Linked DNA regions of Homo sapiens: region 2 is linked to region 1. Evidence: fine-mapped expression QTL. Tissue or cell type: whole blood. Region 1 holds a variant in brackets; the other region holds the start of a gene. All regions are shown on one strand. Distances are between the middles of the regions.

Region 1 (8,000 bases):
AGTGCTCTCTATAGATTTACCCTTATAAAGATTTCTATAAAGATTCTGGCCGGGCGCGGTGGCTCACACTTGTAATCCCAGCACTTTGGGAGGACAAGATGGGCGGATCACTTGAGGTCAAGAGTTCGAGACCAGCCTTGCCAACATAATGAAACCCTGTCTCTACTAAAAATCCAAAAATTAGCCAGGCCTGGTGATGGGCATCTGTAATCCCAGCTACTCTGGAGGCTGAGGCAGAAGAATCGCTTGAACCCGGGAGGCGGAGGTTGCAGTGAACCGAGATTGCACCACTGCACTCCAGTCTAGGCAACAGAGTAACACTCTGTCTCAAAAAAAAATAAAAAAAATTCTATAAAGAGTCTATAAATATTTATCCCTGCCCTAGGTTTTATGTTTTTCAGTAAGATTACTTGTCTTCTAACATCTACTGGTGAAATGGAGTAGCAAGCTTAGGGATCATGAACAAGAATTTTTTTTTTTTAGTGCCTACTCAGGGTCCAGTGCTGTTGGTTTGTTGTTTGTTTTTTGTTTTGTTTTGTTTTTCAGGGAGTAGGAGTTGTTTTTCCTCTCTCTGTTCTTATTATAATCTATATCATTTTTCATCAGAGCGAAGTTCTTAGAAGCAGTGTTCTTGAGTTCCAAACAAGTACAGTTTGTTATAATATAGAATATGTTTTTCTTGTTAGCCATTTTCGTAAGGTGTTTTCCTCCCTATCTTCCCCCTACTCTCTTTGGGCGATGTGAGGATAGTGTTGGTGTTTGGGGTTTTTCATCTGTACTGCAAGCGTGTGGCCTTTACGATTAGTCATAATGTCCAGAGTGGGGACGAGGGAGAAAACCAGAGAGATGGAGTCTTCCTGTTTCACACGCAGATGAAGGTAAATTAAGTGACATTTATCTGCCAGCTTTTCTGTGCTCTCGTTTTCGGTCTATGTAGTTATGTTTCCTTCCATCTTCTGTGTTCTAATTTATGCTGAGGTCATGAAACTCAGTATGAGTTCAAAAATACCACCTGAGTGAGCTGTCACCAATTTCCCACACCGTGTCTAAACTTAAAAGAGCTTCCTCTCTATGTGAGTTTTCACACAGATATTGCTCATTGGTTCAGGATCAGTTCTCCTAGGGAATGTTCTCCCAGGGGCATAGGGTTTTTATTTTTGAAAACTTGGGCAGTACAGGGCAAACATGCTGAATGGATCTGTCATCTCAGCCTTTCTGCCACGGTGCCTGCATGGTGCCTGGCTGCCAGTGGAGCCATCTGACCTTAGAAACCCTCAACACTTTACAAAAGCTTAAATATTAATTTATACATGAGATCCTTAATAGGTTCTGAAGTAAAAGCAGAGTGCTACAGTGAGAAAACACCTTGACTGTGAGTTGGGGTCCCTAGCAAGATTGTCTGTAACTAATAAATTTTGTGTCATTGGGTAGGTTATTTAACCTGGGTCTTTTTCCTTATCTGTAAAGTGAGTTAGAGGAGATGATCTCTAAGATTCCTATTGGTTGCAAAAAAAAAAAAAAAAAAAAGTATGATTTTTCTCACTGGGACAAATCATCAGGTTCCCAGAATATGTTTGAGCAATGGCAAGTAGAGAAGTTTTGCCAAATTGAATGAAGGCTTTCCAGATGGCTATATTGATGGGTAGCTGAAAGGGCTGCATTCGTGCTTGACTGCAGACATCCTGAATACCACTAGACAGAGTGTTACTTTAGCCAGTAGTCAGGGAGCCACTGAAGGCCTTTGAGTAAATGAGTAATCTCACAGCCAGCCTGTCTAACTTTGCTTTCTGTTGCTTATAAAACAGAATACTGGCACCTGGATAATTTATAAGGAAAAGGGCTCATGCCTGTAATCCTAGCACTTTGGGAGATCAAGGCAGGAGGATCACTTGAGACCAAGAGGGCAACAAAGTAAAACCCTATCTCTACAAAAGTTTTAAAAGTTAGCCAGGCATGGTGGCATGTGCCTGTAGTCCCAGCTACTCAGAAGGCATTCAAGCCTGGAGTGCTATGGTTGCACCACTGCACTCCAGCCTGGATGACAGAGTGAGACTCTATAAAGAAAAAACAAGAAAAGAAAAGAAAGAAATGGAATTTATTTCTTAGAGTTATAGGGGCTAAAATGTCCAATTCTGAGGGGACACATCTGGTGAGGGCCTTTTTTGCTGAGTCCTAAGGCGGCTTAGGGCATCACATAGTGAGGGGGCCGAATGTGCTCCCTCAGGTCTCTGTTCCTCTTCTTATAGAAGCTACCAATCCCACTCCCATGATAATCCATTAATTCATTAATCCATGAATGGGTTAACCCATTTGTGAGGGCAGAGCCCTCATGACCCAATCACCTCTTAAAGGCCGCACCTCTCAAGCTGCCGCACTAGGGTTTAAATATCAGCATGAGTTTTGGAAGGGACAGATATGCAAACCATAACACAGACTAAGCAAAGATACACAGTAAGAGGGTTCCTCTATGGAGCACCAGCAGCTTCACCAATGGGCAAACCCAGAAGGGCTCCCAGACAGGAATTTGCAAATGGAGTTCCAGAAAGAACTTGGAATTGGAGGTAGAGATTGGAGAACCTTCTGAGGTGACATTGGAACCCTAAGAATAGAAAAGATCTTCTATAGAGAATGTAGGGAAGGTATGATGGTTTGGGATGAAACCTTAAGGGCAGCCAGAATAGGAGGAGGCAGTGGAGAAGGTACTGTCAGGGAGATGGGAGGTCATCCGAGAGAGCCGCCTCATGGGGACTCCCAGGAGATAGCAGCATTTCCAGGCTGGGCAGTGGTACAAATGATGCTGTACAGGTAAAGGCCTGGGAAAAGAGCCTCAGAACTGGCAATGAGGATCTCACTGCTGACCTTCAAGAGAGCTATTTCAGTATAGGGTGGGGGCAGGAACTTAATTACAGGCAGCTGAGAAAAGAGTAGAGCCAAAGTAGAGTATGTGGTTGTGGAAGGAAGAAGAAACCAGAACAGTAACTTGAAAGTGTGAGGGGAGGGTGGAGAGCAACATCAAGTGAAGGCTGATTATTGTTGAGATAGGCACACATCTCCTGCGGCTAGGGGAAGGAAGCATTGGAAAATGAAAGACTAAAGGTGCTGGATCTGAATAATGGTGGGAACAGAGCAGGCTTCAGGAAGGAGGGGAGGGCATAGAGAGGGCTTATCTTAGAAAGGAGAGGCAATGCCTGCAAGGTCACGGAGTTGGAGACAGGTGAGGATGTGAGTACGTCATGTCTGTTGGCTCTTATTTTTGCAGCAGTGTCTGTAGTTAGGTTATCTGGTAAGCAAGTAAACACAGAGACTTGGGAGCCTGCAAGAGAGTGAAGGGAACTTGGTGTAGCATCTGTGGGTTTGGCACCTGAGAGATCCTCAACCCTTGTTCATCCTTTAACACAAAAGCAGGATTGGGGCACCATAACCCAGAAGCA[G/A]TCCACATCTGCATGGGTGGAAGCCCTGACTCCAGTTGGGAGTTTCTTACTAGAGTTTCTCCCAAAGAGCTTATCACATCTCTGCATGTGTCTCCATTATCTCTCAGTTGAGTTGAATTTTTTTCAAAGAAAATGATAGCATGATTCTCAAGAGCCAACTGACTATAGAGCTATTTCTCAAGTCTCAACTTGTCTGGTTACAGACCTGAACCCGTCCTTTTCTACTTGTAGTTAGATTTTTCTTACGTGTTATGTGTAATAATTTTAAGCATCTTAATTATCAGTGCAATAATTGGGAGGTTTTTGTGTTTTATGGTTCAAGTCAGTGCCAGTTTCATTGCTTTTAGCTAAGTAGTAAGTTCTCTTAAAAGAGAAAATGTGCACTGTGTGGCCTGTTAGCTGTTGAATAATCAAGAAGCCAAATAAAAGGCTAAATTCATTGGTAGACCTCAGTGTAGGCAAAATCTGTATTTAGAACTGGCTGTAGGCAATATCCTCACCAAGGGTCCTTTTCTCTTTTCTGTCACTAAAAAGTTTGAGTTGAATAGGATATGTATTAGTAAAAAGTTTTCTGATTGCAAGTGATAGAAAAACCCTATTTGAAATAGTTTAGGTTTAAATTTTTAAAAGCAAAAAAGAATGTATTGATCCATGTAATGGGGACACTCAGTTGTGGATTGGCTTCAAGCAAGGCTGGATCCAGGCGCTTAGACAATGTTGTCAGGATTCTCTCTCCACTTCTTGAGGCTGTTTCCCTCTATGTGTTGACTTCATTATCACTGGGAGCCTGAAATTTGCATCTTTAGAGCTTGGAATCCCAAAGAAAGAGAGGCCCTCTTCCATTAAGTTTCTATATACCAAATTCCGGGAGGTGTCCGGCATGTGTCCACCCCTGAGCCAATCACCATGCCTGGGGGATGGAGGACTCTGGCCAGCCTCATCAGTCATTCACTGGGGTGGAGGGTAAGGAGTCATTTCCAGAGGCATCTCACCAGGATCACATGGAGAAGGCATTTTCCCAAAGGGAAAACTGAAGAAGCAGAGGGAAGGGATGCTGAGTTAGCAAAAACCACCAAAGTCCATTATAAACACCATAGCACAAAACCTAAACAATAAAAACAAAGATGGAGCTATTACAGTCTGTGGTTATTTTTAGAAGGCTTACAGTTTATTATTTGTTCTTGCTAATGTTAATGATGATCTTCCCTGGACAGACATCTGTACTAAAGTAGTGAAGCCTCCCTGAGGGTTTGACTTAGTGGAGGGCTGTATAAAGCGACTGTAGAAGGAACATACGTCATTTCCAAGGTGCATTTGAAATTATCTGCTCCTCCAGGGTCTACACATTGACTTGACTTGGTTTCAATAGAATAGGTTTGGTTCAGTAATTATCTGGTTTCAGTCAGGGCAAAAAGTAAACTATAAGAAAGGGTTTGGGCATTCCAGTCCTACCTGAAAGTAGGAAGTATAGAGTTCTGTAATGTTAATAATCCTTAAAAAGGTGATGCTGGAGAGGGGAGCATGCGTAGATACAGGTGTTGATGGACACATCCTGAGCTGCGAAGGTTGCTTTCCTTTCCTTCAGCTCCTGCCTTCATCCACAGAGGTGGGCCACCTGCCTGACCTTACAGTCCTGCCTCGCCCACCATGTGCAGGCTCAAGTGGTTCCTGAACTACCCTGTTAATATCACACTGTCGAAATACCATTCGACCCAGCCATCCCATTACTGGGTATAGACCCAAAGGATTATAAATCATGCTGCTATAAAGACACATGCCCACGTATGTTTATTGCGGCACTAGCAGCAAAGACTTGGAACCAACCCAAATGTCCAACAATGATAGACTGGATTAAGAAAATGTGGCACATATACACCATGGAATACTATGCAGCCATAAAAAAGGATGAGTTCATGTCCTTTGTAGGGACATGGATGAAGCTGGAAACCATCATTCTCAGCAAACTATCGCCAAGGACAAAAAACCAAATACCGCATATTCTATCTCGTAGGTGGGAATTGAACAATGAGAACACATGGACACAGGAAGGGGAACATCACACACCGGGGACTGTTGTGGGGTGGGGGGAGGGGGGAGGGATACCATTAGGAGATATACCTAATGTTAAATGACGAGTTAATGGGTGCAACACACCAGCATGGCACATGTATACATATGTAACAAACCTGCACGTTGTGCACATTTACCCTAAAACTTAAAGTATAATAATAATAATTTTAAAAAAAATCACACTGTCTCAGAAGCCTGTTTAAAATGCCATTTGCCCCATCTTCTCACCCACAACACCTACAGGCTAGCTCTTAGTGAGAATTTCTGTGATAACACAAACAATAAGAATGCTTACATTAGACAGTTGTCCGACTAAAGTGATGTTTTGCCACTATTTTTAAACCACAGGGACATGAGAGTGACTAGATTCTTCCCCTCCCTGATTTATAGCCTGTCTGCTCAGCACATCAGAAATCCCCTTCATCTTTAGATCTTTATGTAAAGTGTGATTGAAAATAGATCCAGTAAAGCCAACACAGAGAACTTTTTTTTTTTTAAAAAAAAAGCCTTTACTTACTAATTATCTTATACATTTGAAGAAAACCTGGTCATCTCATTTAATATGACCATATCAGAATTGCAGCATGTCTCAGAAAAAAAACATAAATCATGATTTTTTTCTTCTCTTTGTGAATTAACAACAAAAATGTTTATAGTTTCCAAGTGGCAGTTAGATACCACCACAAAGCCACAGTTGATAACACCATCAGTCTTTGGTTCTCAAAATAAGTAATAAACCCAGTGAAAGGACTTGGTGTAAGATTTCTGATAGTAATGCTACTTGTATTCAATATTCAGTATTCTGCCAATGTTCGTAATGTAAGGATGGCTGCCTTCTTTAAAGCCTTCCTTCTGGAAAGGCAATTAGGTTTAAAGTGTATTTCTTTTGGTCTTCCTGACAACACCGAGGTGGCCGTTATTAACATGATAACCTTGTGGATGAGCAAACAGAGGCTCAAGGGGGTCTAAGGGTTTTTACCGAAGTCACATAGCAGCGAAGGGGTGGACCTGAGGCTTCCCCTCTGATCCGGTGCTCACTTCAACGCCCCTCGAACTGTGTCTCTAGCCTGTGAAGCTCCCTGACTCGCAGCCTCTTTCCCTTTTATTTTATTGCTGCAAAAGGCACTTAGGCAAACCAGACCCACTTTTCCTTTGCTTCATGCAATGGAGTTTCAGCAAAGTGGGAAGGAAGTAAGGATGCCTCTCTTGGGCATTGTTGAGCTCTGGACATCCTCCCCTTCACTGTCGTGCCCTGGGCCAGGGCATGGTGAAAGTTCTCTCCCCATCCTGGGTGGCAGGACAGGCTGCCACATGGCGTGTTGCTGTTCCAGCCCAGGCAATGTGTATTGAGGGCTTGCGTGGGAAGATTTGGGAAGCTATGCAAACAAGGAACTAAGATCTCCAACATGTTTTCAATCTTGGCCTTGTTTCATATCTGAGAAATGTTTTGGTAAATTTGTTTTTATATTAAAGAAAAACCAAAATCCTAGAGTCTGATGCCCAGAAACTGAACTTGCTTTGGAGGACAGGGGACAAGGGAACATGGGATTCGAAATTTAATTCTATAAACTCTTAAGAGAGGCTATAATAATAGGATGAACTTATATTTTGATGACATTTTTCTTAAATCTAGCCATCAACCAGTCTCCCCCTTCGCAGCCCCCACAGCATTGATTCCTGAGGGCTTGAGCCCTCCGTGGTGACGTTTTGTTCTCTGTTACTTCAATCAGCTTGCCTGGGACCAGTGGCAGGGACCCCGGAACCTGAAGGTGCTGACAAAGATGACCTGCTGCTGTTGAGTGAGATCTTCAATGCTTCCTCCTTGGAAGAGGGCGAGTTCAGCAAAGAGTGGGCCGCTGTGTTTGGAGACGGCCAAGTGAAGGAGCCAGTGCCCACTATGGCCCTGGGAGAGCCAGACCCCAAGGCCCAGACAGGCTCAGGTTTCCTTCCTTCGCAGCTTTTAGACCAAAATATGAAAGACTTACAGGCCTCGCTACAAGGTAGGTAAGGTGGGGATTGAAATGGGGTTTTTTGTTTGTTCATTCTTTTTGTTTTCAATCCAAAAGCATATTTCTTCCTTCTTTGTCTTTTTTAATGTTTTCTCTATTTTTATTGACTTTTTAACTGGAGACTCAGAATCACATTCCAACTTTATGTTTCAGGGTTTAAAATACATTCCTTTTCATAATTCTCCCCTGTGTTAGCATCAAAGGTTAGATGAGTGGTTCTAAATCATATTGTCATCCTTTGATTTTAGACTTCTTGTGGCATACTTGAGAGGATCAAACTGCTTTCATGGTCAAGGCCCCGTTGACTTGGCCACTCCGCCCTGAGTTCACCACGTTCCCATAAGCATGCCCTCTTCCTGGGTGCTGACTGACATTGCACGGGGCTTCTTCACTCTTTTTGCACACTAAGTTTTATCTTGCATTTCTGCTCCCTTTCTATCCTGATCCACCTCTCCCCTGAGGACCCCCCACTAGATCCACTCTTCTGGTT
Region 2 (8,000 bases), 130 kb before region 1:
GCAAAACCCTGTCTCTACTAAAAATACAAAAATTAGCTGCGCATGGTGGCACATGCCTGTAGTCCCAGCTACTCAGGAGATTGAGGCAGGAGAATCCCTTGAACCCAGGAGATGGGGGCTGCAGTGAGCTGAGATCGTGCCACTGCACTCCAGTCTATGCAACAGAGTGTGACTCTGTCTCAAAAAAAAAAAAAAAAAAACCAACCAAACAAAAAATACCAAACTTAGCTGGGCATGGTGGTGCATGCCTGTAATCCCAGTTACTCAGGAGGCTGAGGCGGGAGAATCACTTGAACCCGGGAGGCGAAGGTTGCAGTGAGCCGAGATTGTGCCACTGCACTCCATGCTGCAGGACAGAGCAAGACTCTGTCTCAAAAAAAAAGAAAAAAGAAAAAAGAAAAAAAGAAGATAAAGAAACTCTATACTCTTTAGATCTCACTCCCTATTCACCCATACTCTCTCCAGCCCTAAATGATCACTATTGTACTTTCTGCCTGTACAGATTTCTCTATTTTGGACTTTCATATGAATGGAATAATATATTTGTGACTGGCTTCCTTCACTCAGCATAATGTTTCAAGTTTTGTCTAAGTTGTAGCATATGTCAGTATTTCATTCATTTGCATGGCTGAATATTCCATTACATGAATATACTACATTTTGTTTATTCATTTGTCTACAGCAGGACAGCTTTGACCTTTTGACTGTTTTGAATAATGCTGCTATAGACATTTGTGTACAAGTTTTTGTGTAGACATAGGTTTTTATTTCTCTTGGATATAGACCTAGGAGTGGAATTGTTGGGTCACATGGTAGCTCTATGTTTAATCGTTTAAGGAACTTTCAGACTGTTTTCCAAAGTGGTTGCACCATTTTACTTTCCCACCAGCAGTTTCCACCACCAATTTACATCCTCGCCTGGGTTTACCTTTGGGCAATCTTGCTTTGCCTAGGATGGCAGAATAGAATGACAGAAGGGCAACAGCCCAGTGACACAGTGGAGATCGCACCAGCCCTAGACTGCCTACCTTCCAATTTAAGTGAGAAAAAATAAAGCCCTATTTCATTTAATCCACCGCTATTCCAAGTCTCTGTTAGTAGCTTAACACAAATCCAACTCTTGTGGTCCTATTAGCATATCTTGAATCTGGGAAGCTCTTGAAAAAATTATTGAATTGAATATGTAAAGATTTTTTTCATAGAAAATTTTGTCATCCTGTTGTACACTGGAAAACGCACCTTATTTCTCTCCTAATTTCTGATCCCATCATTCAATAGCCATTCTCCTTAGAAACTGTTTCGGGTTCTCACTAGCACCTTACTGGTGTTCTGCAAGATGGAAACAACAGCTGGTTATTCAGAAACAAATGCAAGTGTTATTGATGGAGCCATTTTATTTAAGGGGAAGGAAAAGTACTCATTGTGGTGATGGAGAATGAGCAGGAGTTGTCTATTATTTCCTTTCTCAAATATTATGCTAAGTGTTAGGACAATAATTAGAATGAAGAAAAATCAGTTAAGGTTTTCTCCTAAACTCTCCGGGAGCCCAAAGAATTTCAGTGCCATGTTGACTACATAATGCTTGTATCATGTATTTGTTCTCTTTTAGACATTGCTTTTGAAGCCACTTTTAGCCTCTGTAACAGGTTAGACTCACAGTCATCGTTTTCACCTTGGAATTCAGAAAGCATAAAAGAAAACTGCGTAATCAGTTGCAGCTCAGCTGTCCCCGTTTTTTCCCTTCATGCTTTTGTTCCAATCATCTGCATTTTGAGGGGATACTTTGAACACACACACAACCTCCCATTCTACTGGCTGTTTTGTAACAGATTTAAATATTTGCCCCAAAGCCAGCCTTTGACCAATGGGGCTTCTGATTAAGTTTTCATGTAACTGGTAGAAAGGAGAACATTACAGAGTCAGGAAAAACTTTTCAGGTGATTTAGTCCTTTCTCAATGCTTCAATTAACTGATGATAACGCTCAGTCAACATTTATCGGGCACCTATGATGTTCATTACGGCACTTCATTCTGTTAAAGAATAATAATCTCTTTATCCTTTTAACTCCCGATAATAGCTTTTTACACATAAATTTACAGTTCTTGGAATCAATGTATCTTAACATATCTTAATCATCTTTCTTTTGTAAGGAAGACTTTCTCATTTTAAAGGCTTTGGGTTTTTTTTCTTACAGCAAAATCATTTGGCTTGCGTTGTTAACACGTTAGTTTGAATTTTTTTTTATAAAAGCCAAATATATATAAGCAATGCTTTTCTCTCTGAAAATTTCTCCTGAATCTTAGCTTTTCAACAATTTGCTATTTTGTAGACCATATTCATGATTTGTTTACTCATACACACTTACTAAGGAGATGTTTACTCAGCTCCAAAATTCGTGTTAAGACTAGGACAGGCTCAAATCTATGACAAACAGAATCCCCAAAGAATAACTTTAAAGGTTATGTAAATTTCTGGAGGTATCTTATTATCTTTCTATTAAAATGTCAACATATTCTATACTTTTTCTCCATCCATTCTGGCAAGACACCATGCTATCTTGAGATTAAGCTAAGTCTCCTGGTTCAGATTCAAATCCCTGCTCAATAATCTCTTTATGGCACTCTGGGCAGTGTCTTCATCTGTGAAATCGGGATAATGATTTTATCTACAGTATTGGGTTGCTGTAAGGATTAAATATAAAGCATACAGCATGTGCCGGACATAGAGCTAGCACTCCATCCATGTTAGCGCAGGATTTCTGATTCGTCAGCATCATTACTCAATAACTATCATTCGGCCCTTTTAAATTGTTTCAGCGACGACTGAATGAACTTATTTATAAATGTATAACATAACTAGGGATGAAGTCATACTACATTGAGGTTTCATTTCCACATAGATAATATTAGGAAGCAGCTATGCCAACACTTTTTCTTCCTGTGATCTGTATACTGCAGGGTCTCTAGAAACAATGGTTTGGTTCTTTCCTGGTGACAAAGGATAAGAGAAGATGAAACTGCTACAAATGGCAATAACTTAAAAATAAAAGATACAGAAATATATGGAAATGAAAAACATATACCTATACATACACAGCTGTTTTTAAAACATGACCTTTATTCTCGAAGCTCAAACTTGATTTCCAGGTACAGCAGGCCTCTGTAACTTTTCTTGGCAGTGAAGTCATGAAGTCTCCTGTCCTCTAAAGCTACAGAAATTTAACCTGGAAGCAAGCAGTAGGCACTACGCACAGCACAGAGGGAACCCTGGGGTGTACGCTGTGGCTCCCACCTGTCCGCCAGGTCATTGTGACGCAAACGCTATGGCCACGTGGAACACCTGCCGGAGAGCAGGGGCGGGGTCACTCTGGGCGGCGGATCCGAGCGGGGGATACCCCAGGAGATGGGGGTCGAGGAGAGACCCCGGGGAGTAGAGAGAGAGAAACTCACTCCCCGAGTCCCCGACCCTCCCCAAGCAAGGTGAGGTCAACGCCACCCACCTTCCCCCGGTCACCCTGGGAGGGGTCGCTCCGGCGGGCGTCTGCTGGAGGGTAGAAGCGGGGAAGGGAGGCAGCGGCGGCGCCCAGGCGGCGGTAGGTAGCCGGGCGGCGAGGGCGCCCGCACCCCCCGGCCGCTGCGCTGCGCTGCGGTGCGCACGGGCTCCGCCGGTTGCTATTCCGGCTGGTGGCGGCCGCCGCAGGAAGGGCCGGTTCCTGCGCTCCCCCCGCCCCTTTCCCTCGCCTTCGGCTGACGCTGACGTCGGATGAGTGATCCGGAGGGACGCTCCGACCGCGGCCGGGAGGCTCCTGGGGGCCGGGGCTCCGAGGTACCTGCCCTCCGGGGTCGGGGCGGGGGCGCGCCGGGCGGGCTGCAGGAAGCAGCAGGAGACGCCCGGCAGCCGGGACGGTCGGGGACGCCTGGTAGGAGCTGCCTTCTCTGCCCTCCGCGGGCGGCGCGTGATAGGCGAGTCGCCTCCTCGGGTCCCGGATCCCGGTGCGGGAACCGCATCAGCCCCTTCCCCTCCCCTCCTCCCTCCGGCCTGGGAAGGTCTGGAGGATGCGCGCGCCGTGAGAGCGTGCGTCAGCCCCGGGGGAGCGGTAGGGAAGCGTTCCGCGCTCCGGCCCCAGCGCTGGGAGCACCGGCACCCATGCCAGCCCACCCCACCCACCCACCGCGCGCCTCGCCTTCCCGGCGGCTCCGGCCCCAGGACCCCGAGCTCCCTGGTGGGCAGGGACTTGCGTCCAGGGTTGACTTGTTGACAAGTTCACCTGCCGCGGCGCCTGGTGTGTGCTTTTTCTCTTCCCCTCCGTGGCCCTTTTTTTGGCAGGGGCGGCAGAGAGCATATGGGTACCTCTTTATAACCACTAGTGCCAGGAGGCCTGAGCTTGGTCCCCCGGGGGCGAGGTGCTCAGCAGTCTCGGACTAGACGGGGCGAGAACCCCTAAGCAACCCCGGTTCCAGCAAACCCTGGCGCGCCCGTTTCCTTTGGGCGCTGCTGACTCCGCCTTTCCTGCTCCGGGGCTATTGCAGCTCCTGCTTCCTCTAGAAACGAACATATCCTGTTGTTATGTCTGCCTTTCCCCCAAAGCGGCTCTCCAGGAACCTTTCCCACTGTCTTTTTACTTGTAGTACCCCCAAAGCACCTGAGCTTCTCTTTGGGGTCTTAAAAGTATCGCGCCCTTATTCTGGCGAAGGGCATTAACTGCCTGGTTGGGGAGAGTTAGTTTGGAAAGAATCGCGTTCTCTTCATTTAGATGGCATTAAAAAATTAGCGCAAGAAAGGGTTTTGTTCATGAATCTTAGTAACCGAGATCTGGTAACGGTATAAAAATTATCAAGGCCTGGAAAATATGTCACCAGCTTGCTTGGGAGTGATACTGAATGTAGGAAGAAAGACACATAAGGCATTTATTGGCCATTAAGGTCCTATAAAATATGACTCATCGCAAACATGTTTTTGTCCATACGTTTCAGTGAAGTCTCTTCGGAAAATCTCAAATTGGTTTCTGTGGCCCTCTGGTTTGAATCTGAGATCTGAACTGTTCTGTGGTTAGGGAGTGAAATAAGAAATGCTTAGTTTGAAATCTAGGCTCCCGATGCAATTTCATACCCCCTGTTTAAAACACACACTCTCTAAAAATGCTTTTAAGTAAGTTTTCAAACCAAAGATATATTTTTAGATTTCAGTCTTTATTTTTGAAACACCCTTTGTAGAGAATACCACAGGGACAAAATCAATTTATAATCCTGAATAGCTCAAATATCACTCTTTGGTTTTATACTAATACTGTACATACATCTTAATTGCAGGAGATGTTGCTTTCTAATTGTTTCTGTTTGTATTACAAAGGGAAATAATTGTACTGTTTATAAAGATGAATCTTTAGAAAACGTAACAGTTAAGCTACAGCGGGCTATTTGTGGAGAGACCTGATGTTAAAAAACGTTAACCCTGTATCCTCCACCCGTGGATCATTGAGTGCTAAAGATACTGGATGGTAATTGCCTGGGTGGTTTATTTTGTAACTATTTTCCCCCATTTGGAACACCTGAGTAACTATCTGACTGCTTTCTCTACGCATCTTTACCGCAGTGCATAAAGATCAATCTCACGAAAAGTATAGAAAATTTTGTTACTCAGAGCCTTCAAAATCAGTACGTTTTCAAGGTATTTGACTAAATAGTACATTTTTTTCAGGTGCAAGCAGCATTAGCGGTATGGAGGTCTGGTAGTTATGCCATAACGTAGAAGGATAAACCTATGTTTGGTATGAACTTTTAAGATTATAGAAACCTCATGCGAGAGAGGGAGGAAGTTAACAGGCCCCAAGTGTCAGGATGAATTTTTCCTCTTCGTTGGTTGAGCCTGAGGGTAGGTGGCAGTGTTTATAATCAGCACGCTGGTCACTAGTGTCCTTTTTTTCCATCTGCATTACTAGATTTATGGGAACCATTAATAAGGATGCTATCTGCATGTTTTGTCCATGAGGCAACATAGATCACTAATGAATCTTATCCCCCAACCCCACCACCATTCGCAATCTGCCTCAGCAGAACTTTAAACTCAAAAAACACTTTTCCCCCGCTTTTTTCTTGATTCCCAAGCTGATACATTTCGTATCACAATCATATCTAACACTCTGAGGGAGTATGGAGGACTCATGGGCTTTGGATCCTGATGGAGCAAAATCAGAATCCCTGCGGTAACACCTAACTAGCCGTGTGACCTTGACCAAGTTACTTAAGTCACCATTTCCTTATCTACAGAACAGGAATATCCACCTTTTTAGGGGCAGGGTGGAGATTAGAGATAATGTATATAAAATGCTTTGCACGCTTTTAAATAGGACTCACTCAGTAGTAATAAATTATTTTTTCACATGCTAAACATATGCTATCCGTATCTAAAAAGAATGCTGCTGCTTTGCCTGTGATAGGAAGTGTATTTCAATTTGGTTTTGAGTAGTTCAAATAATTTTGTACCAATACTAAGACCCTGGGCTTTATGGAAAACACTCTCTGAAGTTGGGGGGTGCAACCAGAAACAAAACAAATCTAATTTGTTCCAGTGGGGATAGATCTTCCAAGCCCCTGTCACTCAAACGTGGTCCATGGACCAGTAGCATGTGGCCTCCCCTGGGAGCTTATTAGAAATGCAAAATCTTAGCGTGCCTGCTACTCTCTTCCAGACCCAGTGAATTCAAATCTCCATTTTAACAAGATCTCCATGAGTATGTTAACATTTGAGAAGCAATGCTGTAACCTGTTATTTCTCAAACTTTAGTGTCCCAGAGAATCATTTGGGGGCTTGTTAAAATAAGTGTGGATTCCCGGTCAAGCTTCCTTCATCTGCTGTTAAGCAACATCTCAGGTAGCTCTGATCCCTAGGGTCTCCCACAGACTGTCCAGCACACTACTCTAAAATGAGCCTCTGTCCTCTTCCTTCACAAAGCACTTTGGCAACTATGATCTTATGTGATACTCAACCCCCTTTGAGATAAGTAGATATTATAATCTCCATCTGTCTGATAAGGACTGCAGGCATGATTTGCCCTGGATAGATGCATATGGTAGAACTGCCTTGGAGCCTCTAAAAATCCTGGCTGACCACACTTTCACTATTCTAGCAATTTACTATTTAGTATTATAGCATCAAATTAACATAGTTTTTGTTTTTTGACCTGTAAGTAATTTTCACAAATAACTAATGAATCTCTCCAGGACAGGGAAGACTACATGTGATAGGGCATTTTATACCTGTTTTTATAACAAAGCCTGCCTACTATGTGACTGTAGGCCAGTTGCTTAAGATAACTGAACTTAAACTTCTTCGTGAAATGAATATAAATCATTATGTCAACTTGGCCGTATTGCGAGGATACTCCGTGATGTGGGTGAAGCATACACCCCAGTGTCTGAGAAGTGGCAGTTCCTCAATTAGTGGTAACTCCTTGTCCCAGTGTAAACCTAGTGAGCTAGAATGAGTTCATGAAAAGGTGGGGAAATGATGGCCTGCATCACTCATGATGGGAATCATCTGTCTCTCTTGCTAAGTCAGATGACATCATCCATCAGGCCTTTGACCAAATCAGAGAAGTGGGATGACTTAGTATTGAACAAGCATTGGTTGTATATGTGCCATGAGCTACACACTGTGCTAAACACTCAGAATCCCAAGACTCAGACCCCACCATGCTCTGGAGGAGCGTACAGCTGAGTAAAAGAGGGAAAGAGAGGAGTCAACTAACCAATTGCCTTTCAGGGAAAGCAAGAAGGAGATAGAGACACAGGTGGTAATGCAGCCCAGGGCGGGGGCATCCCACCCCAACAGGAGAAAGGGCAGAGAAACCCTGAGATGCTTCATGGAGGAGATTGCCCTTGAGTTGAGCCTGAAACAACCAGTAGGAATTCAGCAGGTAAATAAGGGTTGGGAGTGGGGAGAAAGAGCGTTCCCCACTCCCAACCATGTGTATGTGTGTACAAAAGTCAACAAGTAAGGG

What was found. PIP is the estimated chance that this variant, and not a neighbour inherited with it, causes the effect.
Region 2: it holds the start of ICA1, and the variant in region 1 is fine-mapped to the expression of ICA1 in whole blood (TOPMed, PIP above 0.99).

The regions. Positions count from the first base shown.
Region 1 is chr7:8,127,374-8,135,373 of GRCh38, reverse strand. It overlaps ICA1 (islet cell autoantigen 1), which reads left to right. Exons shown (of 14, transcript NM_001136020.3): 13 at 7,232-7,501. Among named protein-coding and RNA genes, the nearest start is that of ICA1, 130 kb to the left of the region's middle. RefSeq lists an enhancer at 821-950 and a silencer at 1,661-1,710. The variant G/A (reference allele first, on the strand shown) is at 3,432.
Region 2 is chr7:8,257,920-8,265,919 of GRCh38, reverse strand. It overlaps ICA1 (islet cell autoantigen 1), which reads left to right and starts at 3,753. Exons shown (of 14, transcript NM_001136020.3): 1 at 3,753-3,826. It overlaps ICA1-AS1 (ICA1 antisense RNA 1), which reads right to left and starts at 3,695. Exons shown (of 6, transcript NR_125740.1): 1 at 3,501-3,695; 2 at 3,094-3,340; 3 at 1,240-1,329.